2 separate regions of the Homo sapiens genome follow, and region 1 is linked to region 2. Evidence: fine-mapped expression QTL. A gene starts in region 2. The other region holds a variant in brackets. All regions are shown on one strand. Distances are from middle to middle.

What was found.
Region 1: its variant is fine-mapped to the expression of NGEF in adrenal gland (GTEx, PIP above 0.99).

Annotation. Positions count from the first base shown.
Region 1 is chr2:232,894,163-232,906,651 of GRCh38, forward strand. NGEF (neuronal guanine nucleotide exchange factor) reads right to left here. Exons shown (of 15, transcript NM_019850.3): 6 at 594-754. Among named protein-coding and RNA genes, the nearest start is that of SNORC, 30 kb to the left of the region's middle. RefSeq lists enhancers at 6,247-6,872, 6,873-7,496, 7,378-8,577, 10,540-11,185, 11,186-11,830. The variant T/C (reference allele first, on the strand shown) is at 7,239.
Region 2 is chr2:233,007,232-233,019,720 of GRCh38, forward strand. NGEF (neuronal guanine nucleotide exchange factor) reads right to left here and starts at 6,025. Exons shown (of 15, transcript NM_019850.3): 1 at 5,837-6,025. LOC101928881 (a long non-coding RNA gene) reads left to right here and starts at 5,383. Exons shown (of 3, transcript NR_136325.1): 1 at 5,383-5,738; 2 at 5,909-6,016; 3 at 8,476-8,654.

The sequences.
Region 1 (12,489 bases), 110 kb before region 2:
CCTTTTCAAAGGATTCAATGGGCAGATGTCTGTCTACTCTTCCTCCGCTGCAGCTCGGCCCAGGCTTCACACAGTCCCTGCTGGAAGCACAGCTCCCAGAGCTGTGGAAAACGCACTCAGGAGGTGAGGATGTGGGAATCCAGGGCTGCACCCTGCACAGGGCCTGAGGCCCTGCATGCGCCACTGGGGCTTTCTGCTAGGGTAAGGAGCAGCTTACATGGACACCTTCTGTCCCTGTCACAAGACTCCCGTGGACCTGCCTGGTTTAAACCTGTCCAACCACCGGTTTGATGCATGAGAGAGCTGGACTCAGCGTCACTCCAACCTGGGGCCAGCAGGATGCTCAGCGCAGAGCTTTGTGTGGGGCACAGGTGCTCATGGGAAGGGACGCCGGGGGACGTGACTGGCCACCCTGCCAGAAGGGGTGGTGAGGTTTGGATTTAGTTCTTCATTTATTTATATTTTATTATGGAACATTCCAAACATCTGGAAGTAGAGAAGCCAGTATCGAGCACTTGTCATCAGTGTCTCAAGCATGTGCCCTGGGGATGAAGAAGGGCCCTGAGGGAGGTGGCTGTCCCCCCCGTCCTCACCGCTCACTGACAGCCAGCACGTCCAGGACGTTGGAGAAGAGGATGTGCGCCTCGGACGGGTGCAGGATCTTCCTTATCCGCTCGTTCTCCATGAAGTGGGACACGAGCAGGTTCAGACTCTTGTAGTAGGACGCCTCGGAAGTGACCAGCTCGAACATGGCCTGTAGCAGGGAGACCCCATGGTTACCGCCTGAAGTTGGCCTTCCACGAAGGCGCTAGCCTTGGCTGAGACAGAGGAGCAGAGGGAGGCTCAGCAGGGAGTTGAAAGGGAAAAATCGCCTGCTCCTGGGGCCTGGGATGGCTGCTGCAGGGGCAGCTGGTAACACCTGCGGCCGGGAATGGTAGTGAGGCCACTCTTCCTAGGGAGCACACTACCCCTAAGGTGACAGGGCACGGAGGCTACTCCCTGTGAGAGAACACTTACCATACTGACAACTGGAGATAGCCTAAGATCCAAAATATGAAACAAGACAAAAACGAGAGAGGTCAGGCTGGGCGTGGTGACTCACTCTTGTAATCCCAGCACTTTAGGAGGCCGAGGCGGGCAGATCACTTGAGGTCAGGAGTTCAAGACCACCCTGGCCAACATGGTAAAACCCTGTCTCTACTAAAAATACAAAACTTAGCTGGGTGTGGTAGCACATGCCTGTAATCCTAGCTGCTTGGGAGGCTGAGGCATGAGAATCACTTGAACCTGGGAGGCAGAGGTTGCAGTGAGCCCAGATCACGCCACTGCACTCCAGCCTGGGTGACAGAGTGAGACTCTGTCTTAAAAAAAAAAAAAAAAGGTCAGCCACACACCTGAGCCCGCACAGCTGCCAAGGGTGGCTTGGCCCATGCTCTGGGTGTGCTAGTGGGTGCGAAAGTCAGCAGGTGGGAGGAATCCTGTTCCTCCACGCCCAGCAGAAAAGCGTCAGGGGAAACCGGCCAGTGTCAAGCACGAGTGTCACGGGTGGAATCTGGGGGGATGTTTACCTTTTTACCTTTTGAATCGCCTGATAATTTAACAATGAACATATATCATGGTCTGATTTTATAATGGAACCAATAAGGTGATTTTCATTTTGGAAGAGAGAAAGAAATCCATAACCTGATCAATTTTCTGGAGGTGCCTTTATTCGATGTCATGATTATCACCTGATTGCTGAGCCTCTGAATAGCTGACTAGGATCTAACAGCAGTTCTGCATCTCATGGGTCATTCTGTAAGGGCAGGTGGCAGATCCCGGCTCACCTTCCTCCCTTGTTTACAAATCAACCCAATGACCCACCTTCCTCTTCCCCGTCACCCTCTGATACTTAGGGCGGGTTCAGGTCCCACAGTCGCTTCCCAGGAGGGACAGCAGAGTGGGTTGAACTGTGGCCCCCACAGAAGCTACATCCATGTCCTAACCCCAGCACCTGTGAATGGGACCTTATTTGGGAAAAGGGTCTGTGCAGACATAATTGAGTCAAGGAGCTCAAGATGAGATCATCCTGGGTTAAGGTTGGCCCCAAACCAATAATGGGTGTCTTTATAAAAGAGGCCAAGGGAGATTTAATAATGTGACACAGACACACAGAGAAGGCACAGACAGAGATGGGACTGATACAGCCACCAGCAGTTGGAGTTGGCCAGAAGGATCCTCTGCAGAGCTGTCAGAGGGAGCACAGCCTGCCCAGGCTGTGGGAGAATCAATCCTGTGATCCTCTGCCACCCAGTTTCTGGTAATTTGTTATGGCCACAGAGGAGGGGTGGAAACAGAGCAGTGAGGAGCCTGGGGTAAGGGTGAGGGTGGGGGTGAGGGTAGGGGTGAGGGTGGGGTAGGGGTGAGGGTGAAGGTAGGGGTGAGGGTGAGGGTAGGGGTGTGAGGGTAAGGTTGGGGTTGAGGGTAGGAGTGGGGGTGAGGGTAGGGGTTGGGGTGGGGGTAGGGGTGGGGGTGGGGGTAGGGATGGGGGTGGGGGTAGGGGTGGGGGTAGGGGTGAGTGCAAAAGTAGGGGTGAGGGTGAAGGTAGGGGTGAGGGTGAGGTTAGGGGCGTGGGTGAAGGTAGGGGTGAGGGTGAAGGTAGGGGTGAGGGTAGGGGTAAGGGTGAGGGTAGGGTTGAGGGTGGGGGTGAGGGTGACGGTGGGTATAGGGGTGAGGGTGTGGGTAGGTGTGAGGGTGGGGGTAAGGGTAAAGGTAGGGATGAGGTGAGGGTAGGGGTGAGGGTGAGGGTACAGGTGAGGATGGGGGTAGTGGTGGGGTTAAGGGTGAGGTAGGGGTGCGGGTGAGGGTAGGGGCGAGTGTGGGGGTAGGAGTGGGGGTGAGGTTAGGGGTAAGGGTGGGAGTAGGGGTGGGGTGAGGGGTGAGGGTTGGGATGGGGTGGGGGAAGGGGTGAGGGTAGGGATGGGGTAGGGGGTGGAGGTGGGGGTCTGGCCCCTTCCCCAGGGTCCTGCCCATCCCCTGCCTCACTCCTTTTAGGGCCGCCCTCCGGTTTCTCCACTCATCAGAGCCCTGACCCAGGGCCCAGGGCTTTGGCATGAAAGCAGGAGCTCCAGGGTTAGAGGCATTTGTTCCCAGAACACAGTGGGCCCTGGAGTGGTGGGGTTTTGCAGGCTGTTTCACTTAATCCTCCCAGGTCCCCCAGAAAGGACAGACAGAAGCTCCCATTTTACCAAAAGGAAACAGACACAGAGAAGTGAAGTTGCATCCAGAAAGTCACATGGCTGGATGCTGGAGGAGTGGAGATGCTGCCACCTCCCAGGTAGCGCAGGGGTTTGCTGGGCATTTGATGCCCGCCTGCAGGAGCTCTCACTGCTGCTTCCCTGCAAAGCTCTGCCCACCCACCCACCTGGCAGAGCACTCTAAAATAAGGGACGAATCTGGAAGCTGGGAACACCCCACAGAGAGTTCACATTGATGTCACTCCAGGGCCAGCGGCCAACTGCAGACCCCGAACCACCATCAGTAGCCAGGGCCCACCCGGCCCCCAGTGTCTGCACCTCACTTGAGACAGTGACAGTCAGAGATGAGACGCTGAAATGAGCCTGTGGCCTCTCCGTGGCCATCCCCACGTCGCATCTGCCTCATCTACCTAAAAAGCAGCCACAGCAAGCACACAGCAGCACCTCACTTGAGACAGCGACGGTCAGAGACGAGACGCTGAAATGAGCCTGTGGCCTCTCCGTGGCCATCCCCACGTCGCATCTGCCTCATCTACCTAAAAAGCAGCCACAGCAAGCACACAGCAGCGGGCCTCACAGCAGCAGACCTGCAGCCCAGCGCTGACTGGCAGCAGACCCCGAGTCGGCCAGTGTCCACCGACACAAAAGTGAGGCTATGACGGGCAGCCAGTTTCCCAGAAGCTTCTCAGCTACAGATGCTGTTATGAATTCATTTTCCTGCTGCTAAATTTAAGTTTCCTAAGAAAATGTGAAGCAGTTACAGCTCACAAGTTCCAAGCAAACATAACTCACAAAACTGATACGAATGATACCAAGGGGAAAACCCCCATGCCCACAGCGCCACATCACAGAAAAGCATGCCATTAAACCACATGGCCCTGAAGGATGCCTGCTAGAGACACCTGGGATGACACCCTGGCTCTGGATCACCCGGATCTTCTGGCCGACAGCATCTCTGTCCTGATCTTCAGGGCCAGGGGAAATGGCAGGTAGGGCCTTTCAGCTGTGGGCCTTGGCCTGAATCCCTGCTAATCGGTATGGCTGAGGCTCATTCCCCAGAACTCTCACCCCTCCTCATCCATTTACAGGCAACGTCACCTGTGAATTTTAGCTTCCAGGATGTTTGTCTTCATTTTGTATGTCAAATTGTTTGTCATGTCGATATGGCTATCTTTTCCTTATCGATATTACTTTTGCTCTCATTTAAGCCTCTACATGGCAGCATAGAGCTGACGAGGGATCCAGGCTCTGCTCGCTCTTCATTCATTCACTCGTTCGTTCCTTCGTTCCACAAATGCTCACTGAGCATCTGCTGAGCACCAGGCACTGGTCTAGGCACTGGGCACTCGGCTGTGAACACAGCAAGACTGGCTTCCCATGGCACTTTCGTCCCAGGGTAGTGGAAGGAAGTGTGAGCCTGTGAGGGCGAGTGGGAATGAGTGTATGTGTGCATAGACATACGCGAGTCAGGGTGTGAGCATTAAGGAATGAGAGTGCATGTGTGGGAAATTGTGGGTGAATGTGTATATGGGTGTGGCTGTGAGAGCATGTAAGTGAATGTGTGTGTGAATGCATGTGTGTGTGTGAATGTGAGTGTGAATGGGTGTATGTGTGTTAACATGTGTGAGTGAATATGAGGGTGGGTGTGGATGTGTGGATGTGTGTGTAAATGCATTGTGTGTGAATGTGTAAATGAGTATGTATGAAGGTGGGTGTGAATGTGTGCATGTGTGTGAAAGAGTATGAGAGTGTGTGACAGTGGGTGAATGTGTATGAAGGTGAGTGTGAATGTGTGTGAATGAGAGTATGTGACTGTGTGTGTGAATGTGTGCATATGAGGGGGGCGTGTGAACGTACGTGTCACTACAGAAGCTCCTCCTCAGGGAATGCGCATGTAGCCTGGACCCGGCTGTCTGAATCTCTGCTTGGTCTGGGAATGGCGCTCTCAGCTCTGTTGCTATCTGCCAGTATTCACGTCACACTTCCTGGCTTTCCTAAGCCCATTCCTGGCCTGGATTCCTTGTGAAGATTCAACTCCGGTCCAGCCTGGGCTTTCTTCAGGCTCCTCTTTTGTGATCTCTTGCTGATGGGTCAGGGGTCTCCTTTGGTTTTCACACACATGCTCTCACAGTCACTCATATACATGTTCACTCACATTCACTTACACACATGCTCTCACAGTCACTCATATACACGTTCACTCACATTCACTCACACACACATGCTCTCACAGTCACTCATATACACGTTCACTCACATTCACTCACACATGCTCTCACAGTCACTCATACACACATTCACTCACACACGCTCTCAGTCACTCATATACACGTTCACTCACATTCACTTACACACGTGCTCTCACAGTCACTCATATACACGTTCACTCACATTCACTCACACACACGCTCTCAGTCACTCATATACACGTTCACTCACATTCACTCACACACACACGCTCTCACAGTCACTCATATACACGTTCACTCACATTCACACACATGCTCTCACAGTCACTCATATACACGTTCACTCACATTCACTTACACACATGCTCTCACAGTCACTCATATACACATTCACTCATTCACTCACACACGCTCTCACAGTCACTCATATACACGTTCACTCACATTCACTCACACACACACGCTCTCACAGTCACTCATATACACGTTCACTCACATTCACTTAGACACATGCTCTCAGTCACTCATATACACGTTCACTCACATTCTCACACACACACGCTCACAGTCACTCATATACACGTTCACTCACATTCACACACACGCTCTCACAGTCACTCATATACACGTTCACTCACATTCACACACACACGCTCTCAGTCACTCATATACACGTTCACTCACATTCACACACACACGCTCTCAGTCACTCATATACACGTTCACTCACATTCACTCACACACGCTCTCACAGTCACTCATACACGTTCACTCACATTCACTTACACACACACGCTCTCACAGTCACTCATATACACGTTCACTCACATTCACTTACATGCTCTCACAGTCACTCATATACACGTTCACTCACATTCACTCACACACACGCTCTCACAGTCACTCATATACACGTTCACTCACATTCACTTAGACACATGCTCTCACAGTCACTCATATACACGTTCACTCACATTCACTCACACACACGCTCTCACAGTCACTCATATACACGTTCACTCACATACACACACGCTCTCACAGTCACTCATATACACGTTCACTCACATTCACTCACACACACACGCTCTCAGTCACTCATATACACGTTCACTCACATTCACACACACGCTCTCAGTCACTCATATACACGTTCACTCACATTCACTCACACACACACGCTCTCACACTCATGCACACATTCACTCACACACACACATGCTCTCACACAATCACCCACAGAGGCACTGGGAGCCACGCTGCCCGTGGGGCCAGGACCAGGACCTGAAGCCAGGTGAGCAGGCCCCCTCTCAGGCAGCGCGGGCCACGGGGCTGCTCTGGGGTGGTGACGTCCGGCGGCCTCAGATCAGCCAGGTCCCGGAGTTAGGGCCGCCTACACCACCCTGTTCAAGTCACACATTTGAAAAACAAAAGAGACCCATCAGCAAGAGGTCACAAAAGAGGAACCAGGACACCAAGAAAAGTCTGCAGGAAGCCAACCTGCTCCTGATGGAGAAAGGCGGAAGCTTTACCAGCTCTAACACCCAAAGAGCGACGGGCTTTTACGCAGCCCGCGGGCCCCAATTCCCTGTTACTTAAGGCAGTTCAGCTTGTCCTGCAGTTCACGGTCAAACATGGGCCATGCTGCCTGGCCGGCCGGGACTACAGTGTCTGTCCTCGGAGTCCCACTCCTGCCTCCGCACTCGGATCAACCCTGCGTTCCCCACCCTCAGCAAAGCTCGAGGCTGCGCGATTTCTCCTCCCCGCTCTTTACCTACACGGTCTCCTTATGATCCAGGGTTCGCCGTGGACC[T/C]CTGGGCCGTGCATTCCAGCCTGATTTGGGTTGTTTTTTTGGCTTCTCCCGACCCCTGTGTTAACAAATCACTGCTGTCTCTGATGCTGTGACCTTCGATGCGTTGTTGCAGCTGCGTCACCAGGGTGACATCTGCGGGGGTCGGAGCCAAAGGCCAGCAGACCGTGGACTGAAGGGCGGGCTCACTGGCTGCCCTCCACCTTCCTCACGGCCAGGAAACAAAACGTAGCCCCTTCCCCACAAGGGTTCTGCGAGGTCCCTTCCCATCCACCCGTGTGCCAGGCCCTCCCCACACAGGTCACCCCCAGTCCTGGGCATCAGGGCACTGGCCTGGAGCCCAACTTAGTTCACTGGCTTTTGCCTGGAGGGAGGGAGGGGATGAAGAGAAGGCCAGGCAGAATGCCAAGGGTCTAAGGCGTCCTTCCGGGACTCCCTTAGAGGCTGTGGGGACGTCGCCGTGACACCTCAGCACAGGCCCTACCATCCAGGCTCCGTGTCTCCAGTATGCTGCTGGGAGCTATCAGGGCCACCTGGGCCGCTGAAGACCCGGCCTCAGTCTGTCCTCGGCAGGGCAGTGGCTGGGGTGTGTGTGGTACGGGGATCACCATGGCCCACTCCTCTCTCTCCTCTAGCAGCTGGGGCCAGAGCCAGAGCCAGGGGCGCAGGGCGCTCCCAAGCTCTCCACTCTCTGCTCCTGCCCCACAGAGTCCTCTTGCTGCAGCCGCCCTGGGGTGATTCACATCCTCTGTTCCCCAGGATGACTCAACAGCAAGGTCACAAAGTTGCCTCGGTGCCTGCTGCTGGTGCAGTCATTTACACTGCAGGCATCAGGATGCACGGAAGTGACTTTAAAAGGCTTCCAGTTAAGAAGAAACCCCTCAAAGGCTATCCTCCTTCTGCAGACAATGATGATGAAGTCGGACTCCAGAGCCAGAGCCCGAGCCCAGCCCGCTGCAGCGCAGTCTTTAGTGAATTCGAGGCCGGACTGAGCAGGTCCCGTGAGCAGCGTGGGGAGTGGGGGCTTGGCTGTCTGATGGGGGAGTGACAGCTAACCCCTTGGGTTGCTAAGGGACGAGGGGAGTCACATATTCAACGCAGCCATGGGATGCAGGCGCTGGGGGCCCAAACCCAAGCCTCGGCACTCACACACATCACAAATGCCAATTACTACGTTTTCTCAAGATGACCTGTTAATAAAATCATTCGCAAAAATGTTTACATGCTAAAATAAGTGTGTGTAAATTTAAAAAGACACATGCTTGAGAACATGTTCAGCCTGCCTCATGGCAAGAGAAATGTTATGTTAAAACCACAACGAGGCCGGGTGCGGTGGCTCACACCTGTAATCCCAATACTTTGGGAGGCCCAGGCGGGTGGATCACCTGAGGCCAGGAGTTCGATGGCCAACATGGTGAAACCCCGTCTCTACTAAAAATACAAAAGATTAGCCAGGCATGGTGGCCGGTGTCTGTAATCCCAGCTACTTGGGAGGCTCAGGTGGAAGAATCACTTGAACCTGGGAGGTGGAGGTTGCAGTGAGCTGAGATCGCGCCACTGCACTCCAGCATAAGTGACAGAGTGAGACTGTCTTAAAACAAAACAAAAACAAAACAAAACAAAAAATGTTTAATCTAGCACACTGGGTAAAGAGAAAATAGCTGGGTAAGGCACCACATTAGTGGCAGGGGACCAGCACACTCATATGTGGCTAGTGTGTGAAGGCAATTAGGCGATACCCTCTCAAAATTTAAAGAACATTTAACCTTTCACCCAACAATCCCACTTAGCAATTCCCTTAGCATTCCACTGTGTAGATGTTCAATCTTCCATGAGTATAAATAATGCTGCAATGAACACTCTCAGTACCCGGTATTTCCAACTGCAAATATCCATCAACAGGGACAGGTTAAATACATTATGGAACATCTAAACAGTGGAGCCCAGAAAACTGCAAAAATGAGGGTGCTCTATTTGGATGGAGATGGAAAGATATGGTCAGTATTTTAATACTAGTTTACATTTGTGTGACATGAGGGCACACACACACACACACACACACACCTGAATATGTGTCTGACGAGGGAACTGGGTGGCCCAGGACAGGAGTGGGAGAAAGACTTTCACTGAGAGTCCTTTTGCACCTTTTGAACTTCCTGTCAGGTGCATACATTTTTTAACCAAAAGATAAATTTAAAAAAATGCTACCTGCCTACTTTGCTACTTTGTTAAAACAGGTATTGGTATTTGCTTTCTAACGCCTAGCTGACGTTTTAGGTAATGGCCACGTCCACCTCAAAGCATCAAGAAAAACTCCCTGCCGTCTCCCACTGTAGGACTCATCTGCTGAATTGTTGAGGGTTTAATCTAAACAGAAAAATATATAATTCAGTAACAGTTGGTAAATTAAAGAATGATCACAATGTAATTTTTTGGATAGAGGTCCATCATATTAAAATCCTAAGTAATTTCTTTCTAAAATGCACAATTTTCTTTTGGGAGTGGGGAAAGTAAACACGCTTAAGTTGTGAAACAGGCTGGAAAACAACAAAAATACAACTCTGTATGTCAGAGGCTGTACAGATGCAGACTGAGCTGCATCGCAACTTACAGCTGTAAAAATTACAGTCCAGGCAACACAGCAAGACCCAGCATCTACCGAAAGAAAAGACAATTCGCCGCCCTGTGGTTAGGCTGCATCAGGTGACCACAGGGCCCCTTGCTTCTCGCTCCCCAGCAGGACAAAGCCATTAGTCCTGTCTGGGCATGGGGGGACCGAGCCACACCCCACAGCCTGGGCAGGCTGTGCATATATGAGTGTGTGTCCCTGCTCCCCTGGAGAGCCTCACATCATTCCAGCTCCACGCCCAGCCCACCAAGACCAGGGACCGTGGCAAGTCCATCTTTCTCTAGCTCTGCCTCCTGGGTTCAAGTGATTCTCCTGCCTCAGCCTCCCGAGTAGCTGGAACTACAGGCATGTGCCACCATGGCAGGCTAATTTTTGTATTTTTAGTAGAGACAAGGTTTCAGCATGTTGGCCAGGCTGGTCTCGAACTCCTGACCTCAGGTGATCCACCTGCTTTGGTCTCCCAAAGTGCTGGGAGTACAGGCGTGAGCCACCACACCCAGCCCCTTCCCAACCTTTTAATTTGAATCTATGCCTAATTATTTCCTCCAATTGTTGGGTTCTCAAACAGTAACTAAAACACTATCCCAGAAGGGTGGGACCAAGTGCTTCAGGACAAATTAAAAAACAAAAACTGAGGCCTAGCATGGTGGCTCACACCTATAATCCCAGCACTTTGGGAGGCTGAGGCAGGAGGATTGCTTGAGCCCAGGAGTTGGAGAATAGCCCAGGCGAAACAGCAAGACCCCATCTCTTCAAAAAATTTTTAAAGATTAGCCTGGAGTGGTGGTGCACACCTGTAGTTGCAGCTACTTGAGAGGCTGAGGCAGGACAGCTTGAGCCCAGGAGTTCAAGGCTTCAGTGAGCTGTGATCGCACCACTGCACTCCCGCCTGGGCCACAGAGTGAGACCTTGTCTCTAAATAAAAAAACAAACAAAAACAACAAACTATTAATAAGCTGAGAAAGTCCTATGCAGGAACTCTTTCCCATTTCAGCTAGATAATTTTTACTTTAAAAGGAGGAAAACAGCTCTCTCCTCTCTCCTCTCCCCTCTCCCCTCTCCCCTCTCTCTCCTCTCACCTCTCACCTCTCCTCTCCCCTTTCCACGGTCTCCCTCTCATGCCGAGCCAAAGCTGGACTGTCCTGCTGCCATCTCGGCTCACTGCAACCTCCCTGCCTGATTGTCCTGCCTCAGCCTGCCGAGTGCCTGCGATTGCAGGCGCGCGCCGCCACGCCTGACTGGTTTTCGTATTTTTTTGGTGGAAACGGGGTTTCGCTGTGTTGGCCGGGCTGGTCTCCAGCTCCTAACCGCGAGTGATCCGCCAGCCTCGGCCTCCCGAGGTGCCAGGATTGCAGACGGAGTCTCGTTAACTCAGTGCTCAATGGTGCCCAGGCTGGAGTGCAGTGGCGTGATCTCGGCTCGCTACAACCTCCACCTCCCAGCCGCCTGTCTTGGCCCCCCAAAGTGCGGAGATTGCAGCCTCTGCCGGTCCGCCACCCCGTCTGGGAAGTGAGGAGCGTCTCTGCCTGGCCGCCCATCGTCTGGGACGTGAGGAGCCCCTCTGCCTGGCTGCCCAGTCTGGAAAGTGAGGAGCGTCTCTGCCCGGCCGCCATCCCACCTGGGAAGTGAGGAGCGCCTCTTCCCGGCCGCCATCCCATCTAGGAAGTGAAGAGCATCTCCGCCCGGCCGCCCATCGTCTGAGATGTGGGGAGCGCCTCTGCCCCACCGCCCTGTCTGGGATGTGAGGAGACCCTCCGCCTGGCAGCCGCCCCGTCTGAGAAGTGAGGAGCCCCTCCGCCCGGCTGCCACCCCGTCTGGGAAGTGAGGAGCGTCTCCGTCCGGCAGCCGCCCCGTCCGGGAGGGAGGTGGGGGGGTCAGCCCCCCGCCCGGCCAGCCGCCCCGTCCGGGAGGTGAGGGGCACCTCTGCCTGGCCGCCCCTACTGGGAAGTGAGGAGCCCCTCTGCCCGGCCAGCCGCCCCGTCCGGGAGGGAGGTGGGGGGGTCAGCCCCCCGCCCGGCCAGCCGCCCCGTCCGGGAGGGAGGTGAGGGGGTCAGCCCCCCGCCTGGTCAGCCGTCCCGTCTGGGAGGGAGGTGGGGGTCTCAGCCCCCCGCCCGGCCACCCGCCCCGTCCGGGAGGGAGGTGGGGGGGTCAGCCCCCCGCCTGGCCAGCCGCCCCGTCCGGGAAGGAGGTGGGGGGGGGTCAGCCCCCCGCCCGGCCAGCCGCCCCATCCGGGAGGTGAGGGGCGCCTCTGCCCGGCAGCCCCTACTGGGAAGTGAGGAGCCCCTCTGCCCGGCCACCACCCCGTGTGGGAGGGAGGTGGGGGGGGTCAGCCCCCCGCCCGGCCAGCCGCCCCGTCCGGGAGGGAGGTGGGGGGGTCAGCCCCCCGCCCGGTCAGCCACCCCGTCTGGGAGGTGAGGGGCACCTCCCTCCGGCCACCCCTACTGGGAAGTGAGGAGCCCCTCTGCCCGGCCACCACCCCGTGTGGGAGGGAGGTGGGGGGGTCAGCCCCCCGCCCGGTCAGCCGCCCCGTCCGGGAGGTGAGGGGCACCTCCCTCCGGCCACCCCTACTGGGAAGTGAGGAGCCCCTCTGCCCGGCCACCCCTACTGGGAAGTGAGGAGCCCCTC
Region 2 (12,489 bases):
AGACCCTGTCTCAAATAAATAAATAAATAAATACAATTCTAACTTTTAAAGCAAATAGCGTTTCTCAAGAAAACAGCTTTAACGATCACAGAGTATTTGGAGGGGGAACAAAGGTAGATAATGGCCCAGCCTAGGTTTCTAGGAAGAACCCTTTGGCCCGCCAGGTAGCCGCCAGGTAGCTCTGTGTCTGAGCCCTGCTCAGGCTGATCGTGGGTCTCCAGTGGGGACAACTCACAGAGAAGAGCAGCGCAAACTGGTGCCTAGTGAAGGCTGAGAAAGGGAGGAGGATGCACACCGGGGGCTTTTAACCTGGCAGGACCCTAGCACTGCTCACATGAGAAGATGCTGGCTGTCTATGCATGCTACTTAATTTTGGCATTTTCTGTGATATTTCTCCAATGAATACACAAATTAGCTATAATAATGTTTTCCCAAACACAGCCTAGATGAGCCTGTTGATTTTAGATTGAGCATCCAAACGACTTCATTATGACCCTGAGCTCCATTTCTTACCCTTGACTTGGAACCCAAGGTGGCCAATGGCGAATGACTTTGCTCTTGATTTAGGAATGCTTCCAAAGAGGCCAGAAATCTGTAGAAAGTTGCAAGTGACTGCTCTGATATCTCAGGCACCAGGAAAAGTTGTCCAGGCGCCAGATGCCCTTTTCAATCCAGAAACAACTTTAAAATCATTTTAAAGTCCAAAGCTAATTTCCTAAAAAGGAACTTGGCAGAAAGGAAGGCTTTCCTCCAACGCTCAAGAATCCACCAAGGAATGTTTTTCTCACTCAGATGAGAGCAAAACTGTCTTGATCTTTGTCCTCACTCTCATGAGTGGATTTATGACTTGGGAGCATCCTGAAAAATAAAACCCATATGTGAGGGTTCTAAAAACTTCAAATACTTGGAAATTTTTCACCCCATTGGTGGGATTTAATAGGAATCTATTTTCGCTCAGCAACACTGAGTGTATCAGCTGAGAGTAGGAAATTGAGTTTTCTTGATCTGCTTATGTGGATTGCGGTAAAGGGTATGGAGGCAGTTGTGGGGGTCTGAAATGATGGTGGAGAGCTTGGGAGAGGAGCAGGCAGTTTTGCCATCTTTTCACTTTGGGCCCAGAGAGCAATTGCATCCAGCAATTGCTTGTTGATGGGCTGCATGAGGTACTCTCCAGGGATTTGGCCTTCATGGAGTTCACTGTCATGTAGCCTGAAAGACTGATACAAGCAGGTTGCACTAACTTGTACATAAGATAGAGCAACACTCCAAAAGTCAGCACCTTGGGACTGACCCTGGCCACTTTGGGGCGGGACCTGGGGGTCAAGGGCCTTAGGCCCAGCTTGCCTTCCATATCCCCTGTCACTGCCTCTGTGGTTCCCAAGCTTCTCTCATCCCTTGAAGGGCACTGTCCAAGTTGCTTGCCCTTCTGCAGAGCCTATATTTTGAAGGATTTGTCTCTGGTAGGAAACATACTCATTAACTAATAGTGAATTGGCACCTCTGTTTCTTTTCAGTTTTTCAATAGATATTTCTTTTTCCTTTTTTTAAAAAACTTTACCATCTGCATCTTTTTTTTTTTTTCTTTTTTGAGACGGAGTCTTGCTCTGTGGCCCAGGCTTAGTGCAGTGGTTTGATCTTGGCTCACTGCAACCTCCACCTCCCTGGTTCAAGTGATTCTCCTGCCTCAGCCTCCCGAGTAGCTGGGATTACAGGTGCCACTACGCCCAGTTAATTTTTGTATATTTAGTAGAGACAGGGTTTTGCCATGTTGGCCAGGCTGGTCTTGAACTCCTGGCCTCAAGTGATCTGCCCACCTTGGCCTCCAAAAATGCTGAGATTACAGGTGTGAGCCACCACACCCGGCCCATCTTCATAATTTTTAAGTGTGCAGTTCAGTGACAATAAGTATCTTTATTCTTTTTCACTCCTTCATCCCTGCGTCCCTGCTCCACTTCCTGGCCTCCAGTAACCAGCAGTCTACTGTCTGTCATCATGAGACCCACTTCACAGTTTTAGCTCCCACATATGAGTGAGAACACGAGATATATGTCTTTCTATGCTTGGTTTATCTCATTTGACATAATGGCCTCCACTTCTATCCATGTTGCTGCCCAAAACTCCTTTTTATTGATCTATTTATTTTTAGAGATGGGGGTCTTGCTATTTTGCCCAGGCTGGATCTGAATTTGCGATCCTCCCACCTCAGCCTCCAGAGTAGCTGGGACTACAGGACACCCCACTGCACCCGGTTCATATACCCATTTTTAAACTCATCAGCAACTTGGGGCCAGGTGCAGTGGCTCACTCTTCTAATCCCAGCACTTTGGGAGGCCAAGGTGGGAGGATTGCTGGAGTGTAAGAGTTTGGGATGAGCCTGGGCAAGATGGTGAGAACCCATCTCTACAGAAAAAAAAAAAAAGTAAAACTCCTGGATGATTGGAGGTCAGAGCTTCTAGCTTTGGGAGACATGGTGCTGGTGCATGAAGCTCCAGCCCAAAGTGAAGGCAACTGAGGCACAGCCACCAGGTGCAGGGTGCAGAAGTGAGGGATGAATTTCCCATGGGACACGCTGGCCATCCAGACCCCCACTCTCATCTCTGTGGACCTCTGGGGTCCTGGCATCTTGGGTTGGGCCATCCCCTCCACCTTCCCTCCACTCCACCTGTCCTGTCTCTCTTTTTTTGAATTGGAGTCTTCCTCTTGTCACCTTGCCTGTAGTGCAATGGCGTGAACTTGGCTCACTGCAACCTCTGCCTCCTGGGTTCAAGCCATTCTCCTGCCTCAGCCTCCTGAGTAGCTGCGATTACAGGGGTCCACCACCATGCCAATTTTTGTATTTTTAGTAGAGATGGGGTTTCACTATGTTGACCAGACTGGTCTTGAACTTCTGACCTCTGGTAATCCATGCGCCTCAGCCTCCCAAAGTGCTGGGATTACAGGTGTGAGCCAGCACGCCCAGCTGGCATCTTTTAAACAGACCTCATGCCTCCCCTGTCTCTGCCTCCACTGGCCCAACCCTTACTGCAGGGCTCCCTCCCTTTTGCTAAAACCCTGCTGTCCCTTCACCTGGAATGTGCTATCTGTGAACGTATGCTATTTAGAGAACCTGGAGCATTCATTCTGAGTGAGTGTGAAAAGAATTACTACCTTATTTTCAAGGTAGTAATGCTTGCTTTATAATACATCAAACCACACCCCCAGTTCTTCTCCTCCTCCTGGAAAATCATTAATAAGTGATGGAAGATTGTTGAATGATGGCCAGCTCAGAGGCCACCTCCTCCATGCAGGCCTTGCTGATCATCCATCCCTTTGATGGTGCCCATCCTCCTCATTTGAACGTGTGATTTTTTTTTTTCCTTGTCCACAGGCAAAGTGAGTTGAGGCAGGAAGATTGTGAGATGGCCTCACCCAGGCTCCCAGGTCCTTAATCAACCACCTGAGCTAGTTTCCCAAAAGCAGCCCACAGAGGGTGCTCCAGCAAATGGCCCCTCCTCAGTGCTCAGACCCCATGTGGTCTCCCACGGCCCTGGCCTCCAGGATGGCTGCCAAACAAAGGGAGGAGGAGTAAGGCTGAAGTCCTCAGCCTTCTGGGGTGGGTCCTCCAGTCTGGAGGCAGAATTCCACCCCCTGGTCTGACCTCTCCCAAGGTGGGGAGAGGTGGTCCCAGGCCAAGGGAAGGAATTTTTCCTGAGGCCCAGCAGCCTCCTGAAGACACCATCATGGTAGCAGAGGGGGCTTAGGTGCGGGGAGAAGGGGGGTCTGAAAAGAGGCAGCCCATCCAGGCTCAGAGATGGAACCCCCTGCTCCGCTGGGCCACGGTGCCTCTCAGCCTCAGGATCCTATCACCGTTGTTGGGGTGAGAGGGCTGGTGTGCTCTTTTCACCAAGCGGGGTTTCTGGCCTGGCCTCGGGGGTGTGGGACACAGCATCGCTTCATCTCCACTAGCCTGAGGGCCACCATTGTCCCATCTGTGTCCCCAGCCCCACTTCAAAGCCTCACACATACACTGTGCACAGCAATTATCTATGAAGGAGTAAAGGAATTTTTGCCATTGGGGTTGTGCTGGGGGGTGACTTCAGAGCATCAGAGCTGACTCCTTACTCGGGAAGCAATGGGCCCATGTAGATGGGGAAGGGACGTCATCTTGGGAGACGGGATGTCCGACTTGGTGCTGGTGGCTCACCAGCTTCTTGGGACAAACAGCAGCTCCTGCGCCCCTGGTAGAGCCAGCAGGCTTGGGTGGTTAGGTTTGGTCTCCTCTGAGAGGCTCTGGGTGGCCCCACAACATCTGGGCTATTTTGTTACTGGTACAAGCTTCCGGTCTCCCACAGGCCAAGGGAAGTTCTTAAAGCAATGAAAAAAAAAAAAAAAAAGGAACAGAGACAGAGTCTTGCCAGGTTGCCCAGGTTGGAATGCAGTGATATGATCATAGCCCACCGCATGACTTCTGGGCTCAAGCAGCCCTCCTGCCTCTGCCTCCTGAGTGGCTGAGACTACAGGCATGCATCAGCTCTTCTTAAAGCAATTCATCTTCCCCCATGTCTAGCCTCATCTGTGTCCCCAGCCCCACTGGGGCAGAAAGCTGTGGAATGTTACTCACACTGTCATTGGATCAACCCCTGGCTTTCCTGTGGGGATCCCCTCCCTGGGAGGGGTTCCCATGACAATTTGGGCTCCAGAAAGGGATGTGGGAGGAGAGTGCGGTGGAGGGAGGTGGTCTGTGGTCTCCCTTCATGGACCAGAAAGCTTGACCCCCAAGGGGACCCTGGCTTCTACTTCCTCAGAGCTAAGCAGTGCCAAGGGGCAGCCTGAGACATGGGCAAAGGGGAAGCCTAAATGGAAAAAGAGAGAGAGAGAGAGAGAAAGAGAGAAGGGGCAGGGAGGACAAAGACACATGGCAAGTGTCCAAGCTGGAACATTCCCACCAGTGGCCTTATTGCATTAAGGATTTTCCCAAAAAGCAGAAATACACTGATAGTCAATGGAACATAGCAGAGCTGTCACGAGCCCAGGAAACACAAGTCCCACCTCTACACAGCCAGAGACTGTGTGACTGTCCCAAATTTTAAATCAAGATAGACAATAAGAACCTACCACTTTCACATCCAAGAAAACTGTGTCCCTACACATTTCAGTCACACCGTGCTGTGGCTTGAGGCCAGCCAGATGCAAAAATCAGGAAGGTTCTGAGGGGTAGGGCCTTCTGTCTTTCTGAAAGGGGCCCCTGAGCGGAGGGGGCAGTGCTGGGGGAGCTAAAGCGCAGTGGGCTGTCACTTCACGACTATGACTTCTGTTTCCCAAGTGCACTTCCTGACCCTGAGATTTGTGCCATGGCACACAGGAATCAGGGCACTTCCGTTTACATATACGCTCATTATCAGGACTGGCGTCGTGGGTGTGGGGCCTGGGCAGTCACAGGGCCCTGTTCTTAGAAGGTGCCCCGGCTTGCTTTAATGCTGTGTTGTTGTCCTTTTGAAAGCCTTACTATTTTAACAAGGGGCCCTGCATTTTTATATTGCACAGGGCCCTGCAATTATGCAGCCATTCCTGCTTTTGATCTCACTTACCCCACAGCCATAATGGAAGAGCGCCTGGAAGGAGTCCTTATCCTGATTCCCAGATGGTGAAACTGAGTGCCAGGAGGGGCAGTGCTGAAGCCGAGACCAGACAGGATCCCTCGGGTGGAATCCAGGGCTGCTGTTTCTCTTGGGGGCTCCTCCTCAGTGAATGGATGGGTGGTAATCTCCTTTCCTACCTGTCCTAGCGGTAGCCTCTGTTCCTTCTCTTGTTTTATCTCATTTTATTTTTTTAAAAAATACCAAAACCATTCTCTCACCTGCCAGAGAGGAGCTCATAGGAGTTGGGCTTCCTCAGAGAGTGTTCCTCCCTCGTCCCCTGTCCTGTCCAGGCACCTGCGAGCAGGATGGTGTGTCCCCGGCTAAATCCACAGGCGCTCCACTCTGTCCCAGAGAGCCCACAGCCAAAAACTTCGTCCTGTCCTGGAAAAGCTTCACTGGTAAGCATTCCCGACCTTTAGACCTGCCTTGGCCCATAGCTGGCCACGAGCCCATAACGATCACTTCCCGGCTGGGTGTTTACCTTCCTGGGCCCCATGGGTTGAGCCAGGGTGGCAGCCACATACCTGACACAAAAGTGGTGCAGGAGGGAAGGGCTATCTGAGGGGAAGGCTGGGCATGGCTGGAATACCCGCCGCCCGCCCAGTGCAAGATAATGCTGATGGTCACACCAAGAGGGGCCCGTGGCTCAGCTGGCCCACCAACCCCAAGCATTGGCCAAGCCAGCTGCACGGCCCTCAAATCTGAGATTTGGGAGAGGCTTTGGGGTCCTCCAGGGTTCTAGTCACTTCCTGCCATGGCCATCTGGCCTTAACTCAATCACTTCCAGGCATGGAACACTCACTGCTTTGTAAGGCATCTTGCTCCATTATTATTATTATTATTATTATTATTATTATTATTATTATTCCCTCTAATAGCTTCCTTTAATCCAGTGCTTACTACATGACAGGCACTGGGCTAAGTACATTACATAATCTATGTAATCCTTGTGTTGTCACTATGACCAGAGAATCATGCCCATTTTAAAGATGCAGAAACAGAGGCTCAAGAAATTGATCATCTTGCTCAAAGCCCCACAGCTAGTAAGTTGGGGATCCAGGATTCAAACCCAAGCCAACTAGTATCAAAACCACTACCATCATTTGCCAAGTTTAATTGCTACATCATCCATCTTTATATAAAACTCAAATCAGCGTTTGTTTTAGCTATCTGTTCTGGAAACAAATTAACTCAAAGTGTGTGGCTTGAAATAACACTCATTTGTCATCTCAGTTTCTGTGGCTAGAAGTCTGGGCACTGCTTGGCTGGGTTCTCTGCTCAGGGTTTCTCATAAGTTGCCATCCAAGTGTTGGAGGGGCTGAGGTCTCATCTCATGGCTCCACTAGGGGGGATCCACTTCCAAGCTGCTGGTGTTGGCAGGATTCAGTTTCTTAGGGCTGTAGGATGAAGGCCTCAGCCCCTCTCAGCTGTCAGCTGTGGCCACTATCAGTCCTTTGCCATGTGGGCCTCTCCGCCCTGGCAGCTCGTTGCATCAGAGAGGGCTATGGAGAGAGTCTGGGAAGAGGTAGGTCAGTCTTTTGTAATATACTCAAGGATGTGATATTCCATCACTTCTGGCATATTCTACTCGTTAGAAGGAAGTCATCAGGCACAGCCTACACTCAAAGGTAGGGGATTACACAGGGCACAATACCAGGGGTGGGGGTCCCTGAGGGCCATCTTTGAAAGTTCCCACAGCCATCTGATTGCCACAAAACATGGGTTTCAGTTTTGTCCCTGAAAGCCAGATTGAAGTAGTCTCTCATCTATTCTCTCACCCATCCATCCACCCATCCACCCATCCATCCACCCATCCACCCATCCATCCGTCCATCCATCCATCCACCATCCATCCACCCATCCATCCATCATCCACCCATCCACCCATCCATCCACCCATCCATCCATCCATTATCCACCCATCCACCCATCCATCCACCCATCCACACTTCCATCCACCCACCCATCCATCCACCCACCCTTCCATCCATCCATCCACCCACCATCTATCCATCCAACCATCCATCCATCCATCCATCCATCCATCCATCCATCCATCCATCCACCCAACCATCTACTCATCCATTCATCCACCCACTCATCCACCCATTCATCTACCCAACCATCTACTCATCCATTCATCCACCCACTCATCCACCCATTCATCTACCCATCCATCTACTCAACTACCCATCCACCCACCCATTCATCCATCCACCCATCCATCTATCCACCCATCCACCCATCCATCTATCCACCCATCCACCCATCCATCTATCCACCCATCCATCCACCATCCATCCATCCACCATCCATCCCTTCACCCATCCATCCATCCACCCACCATCTATCCATCCATCCACCCACCCATCCACCCACCAATCCACCCACCCACCTACTCATCCATTCATCCACCCACTCATCCACACATCCACCCACTTATCCACACATCCATCTACCCATCCATCTACTCATCCACCCATCCACCCACCCATTCATCCATCCACCCATCCACCCATCCAGTCATCCACCCATCCATCCACCCATCCACCCATCCATCTATCCATCCACCATCCATCCATCCACTCATCCACTTACCCATATATCCATCCAGCCATCCATCCACCCATCCACCCATCCATCTATCCATCCACCATCCATCCATCCACTCATCCATTTACCCATATATCCATCCAGCCATCCACCCAGCCATCCACCCATTTATCCAACCTTTCCTTCATTCATTCAACAAACATTTGAGCAGGGCACTATAAACCAGATCCCGCATTAGGCTCAAGAGATATTAAAATAAGTGCATTAACTCCCTCTTTCCCCTCTCTGTCCCTTGCCACCAAAGCCTTCCAACAGAGCCTTCCTGCATGCCGAGGTTGAAGAGGTGTCCGCTGAGTGCTCTGTCTTCTGGGAATTTTGGCTGTTTCCTGCAACCTATCATCAGATGCCACACTTATGAGACCCTCATCCTTCTGCTCACTCTCTTCCATTGTTTCACTCATTAAAAATATATATTTTAAGCAATTCCTAAATGTAAGTGTTTGTAGCGGGTGTGTGTGTGTGTGTGTGTGTGTGTGTGTGTGTGTGTGTGCGTGTAGGAATAGATCTGAGTGGGACCATGGGGATGCAGCAGGGACCTCCTGGGTGGGCAGGGCCAGCAAGGGGCACAGGTAGAGGCCTGAGCCCTGGACTCACCTGCCTGTGGACCTGTCCCCACAACCCAGCTCCCCAGGCCCAGGGCTGAGGGAATGAACTCGTGAGAAGAGGGTGAAGGGGCCAGTGGGGTTGTCATGTTCAGGTGCCCAGTGGGATGACTTTGAAAATTAAAATTATAAGTCTTTCACGCAGGAGACCATTTCTTTCCTATTGAGCACCTAGTACCAGTAGGTACTGTGCTAGGCCCTGGGGCTGCAATTGGGTGGCTTTCTAAAGTGAATCTAATTTCCTTTTTTGTCCTTTGCTCTATCTCACTGCCTCAGAACAGGCCCCCATCAACTCCTACCTGACAATTGCAATGTCCTTTAAATGGGTCTCTTGGCTTCAGTCTCTCCCAATTGCTTCCAGCCCTCAGCACCCCATCCCACTCAGTAGCCATGTGAATCTGCTGACACAGATCTGATCTTGTCACTTTCTTGCTCAAAAACATTTTATATAACCTACGTTAACAGTTTTATGAGTGTTCTTCCAGAAATGTTCTATATATACATAATCTCTACCTCCCTGCCTCTCTCTCCCTCTCTCTCTCTCTCCCTTGCATGTCTGTGTGCATACACACACACACACACACACACACACACACACACACACCTATATCCTTTGTTTTACTTAGGCAGGATCTCAACATGTATGTTCTGTTCTGTATTACTGTTTTGGTGGTTTTCCAATTTAGCACACTTTGAAGTTCTTCACTGTTTTTAATGGCTGTCGGCTGTTGTGCTATAGAAATATTCTGGGATGGTACTGAGAAATCCCTTTCAGGGCCTGGGGTGTCCTTGACCCGAAGCTTTTGTGATGCTTTTCTGAGTGATAATTTTGATAGATCATTAATGAGCTTAGTAGTCATAAGCCAATTGTTTCAAAGGAATTTTCATAATTTTGCATTTGTAGGAATTGAATAATTAATATAATGAGTTTAATTCATTATAAGACTTTTTTTTTAAGATGATAAAATACCTTCTCATGTTAAGTTTGCTTTAAGGGGTGGGAAGAGGAGAAGAATCTAAATGTTTTAATTGTTATTGTTTTGGTTATTTGAAAAGTAAAATTTAAATATATAAAGATGATGGACCAGGCCTGGTTAAGAAAAAGAACTGAACAGAAGCAGGAATACTTATCAAAACACCTACTGAGTACTTGTGAACCAGGCACTGTTCTAAGTGCTTTACAAGGATTAACATGTTTAATCTTCCCTACAGTCTTAGGATGAGGAAGCCAGATCTAAAGGGGTTAAAGCTTTCCCGAGATCCCATAAATTTTCTGGAACATACAGAAATGCTGCATATATATTTTTTGTAATGTAAATATGTAATTCAATTCAAAACAAGAAAAGTACATGTTCAGGTGCCACAAATGAAGAGATAATTCTATATTTACCTCGGTAAGCTGAGTACTTTAGGGACTGTAGCATACATTCCTTATGGTGTTTGTTATAAATTAATGGTTATGGGGAAACAAGAATCAAAGCCTCTGAACTTGAACACAGCAGGAAGCTTGACGAGGTTGATTATAGATCAGAAGTAAAAAAATGTCCCAGGCCATGGATAGAAATAGAATTACCCACAAGAATGTGGAGAACAAGCTGGATCCACACATGTACTCATGATGTACAAAAATCCCAAGATGGAAATGGAGAAAAAAATTTGAGAATTTGTGACCCCTTAAGACTTATGCAGAGGCAACTAGGGGGAGGTCGCCACAATCTAGGTCACTGGTAGGAACAATTCCACCACCACACTGAAAGGATAATTCCCATTGAAGATGAGCTCATAGGCAGAAATTATAAAACATATTGGTCTTAAGGAAGACCAATATGAAGAATATAATTTATTAAACATGATAATACCAAATTGTAAAACATTTGAGAAAGTCCAACATAAAGAAATACATCCCACAAAAATGGGAGAGTTGACACATGAGAAAATAGAAACAATAGAACAATATTTAAAAAGACCTTAAAAACTAAGTATGCGTTTCATTTCAGAAGTGGGTGTGTGACATAATTACCTTCTTGGGATTTCAAAGTACAACCATTAAGACTCTCCTGGCCTCAGTCAGATGATAACAAGTTTTAGCAAACTTGGCATTCATAAGTACTTGACCTTGGATGGAGGAAAAGGTTAGAAATGTTTGTGTGTGAAGAAGGTAAGTGTATTAGTTTGCTAGGGCTGCTATAACTAATTACCACAGACTGGGAGTCTTAAGCAACAGAAACTTCTTACAGTTCTGGAGGCTGAAAGTTCAAGATCAAGGTATCAGCAGATTTGTTTTTCAGAGACCTCTCTCCTTGGCTTGCACGTGGTGGCTTTCTCTCTGTGTTCTGTCTTTCCTCTGTGTGTGCACACGCTTTTGTGTCCTAATTTTCTCTTCTTATAAGGACACCAATCTTATTGGATTAGGGCCCACCCGTATGACCACATTTTACTTTAATTACCTCTTTAAAGGCCCCATTGGCCAGGCACAGTGCCTCACGCTTGTAATCCCAGAACTTTGGGAGGCTGAGGCAGGTGGATCACCTGAGGTCAGGAGTTCGAGACCAGCCTTACCAACATGATGAAACCCCGTCTCTACTAAAAATACAAAATTAGCTGGATGTGGTGGCACACATCTGTAATCCCAGCTACTCAGGAGGCTGAGGCTGGGGCAATTGCTTGAAACTGGGAGGTGGAGGTTGCAGTGAGCCAAGATTGCATCATTGCACTCCAGCCTATGCAACAGAGTGAGACTCCATCTCTAAATAAATAAATAAATAAATAAGGCTCTATCTTCAAATATAGTCACATTCTGAAGTACTGGGGGTGAAGATTTCAACGTATGAATTTTGAGATTACACAATTTAGCCCATAACAGCTCAAATGCCTTTGTTTCTGCTTTTAAATCTCAATCAACAAATCACTAATTGTGTGACCTTGGAATAGTCACATAATCACATTTTGCCTCATTTTCTGCTTTGCAAAATTGGGGTGATAAACAGCACCTGTTTCATAGAGTTGCTGTTAGAATTAAATAAATTAATGTATGTAAAACTGTTAGAAATAAATACACTTAAAGTGCTTAATGAGATAAAGGAATACAATCTATCAAATAAGAAAAGAAAATTATTATTTTTTAAGGTAGAAGTTGTAGAAATAAAAAATATTGATGTAGGCCGGGCACAGTGGCTCATGCCTGCAATCCTAGCACTTTTGGAGGCCAAGGCAGGTGGATCACTTGAGGTCAGGAGTTTAAAACCAGCCTGGCCAACATGGTGAAACCCTGTCTCTACTAAATATATAAAAAAATTAGCTGGGCCTGGTGGCGGGTGCCTGTAATCCCAGCTACTTGGGAGGCTGAGGCAGGAGAATCGCTTGAACCCAGGAGGCGGAGGTTGCAGTGAGCCAAGATTGTGCCACTGCACTCCAGCCTGGGTGACAGAGTGAGACTCCATCTCAAATATACATATAAAATATTAAATAGAGATGACTTTAGATTTAGTGAGATTTAAAGGGAATGCTTCCAGTTTTTGCCCATTCAGTGTGATACTGGCTGTGGGTTTGTCATAAATAGCTCTTATTATTTTGAGATACGTCCCATCATGCACACGTATGTTTATTGTGGCACTATTCACAATAGCAAAGACTTGGAACCAACCCAAATGTCCATC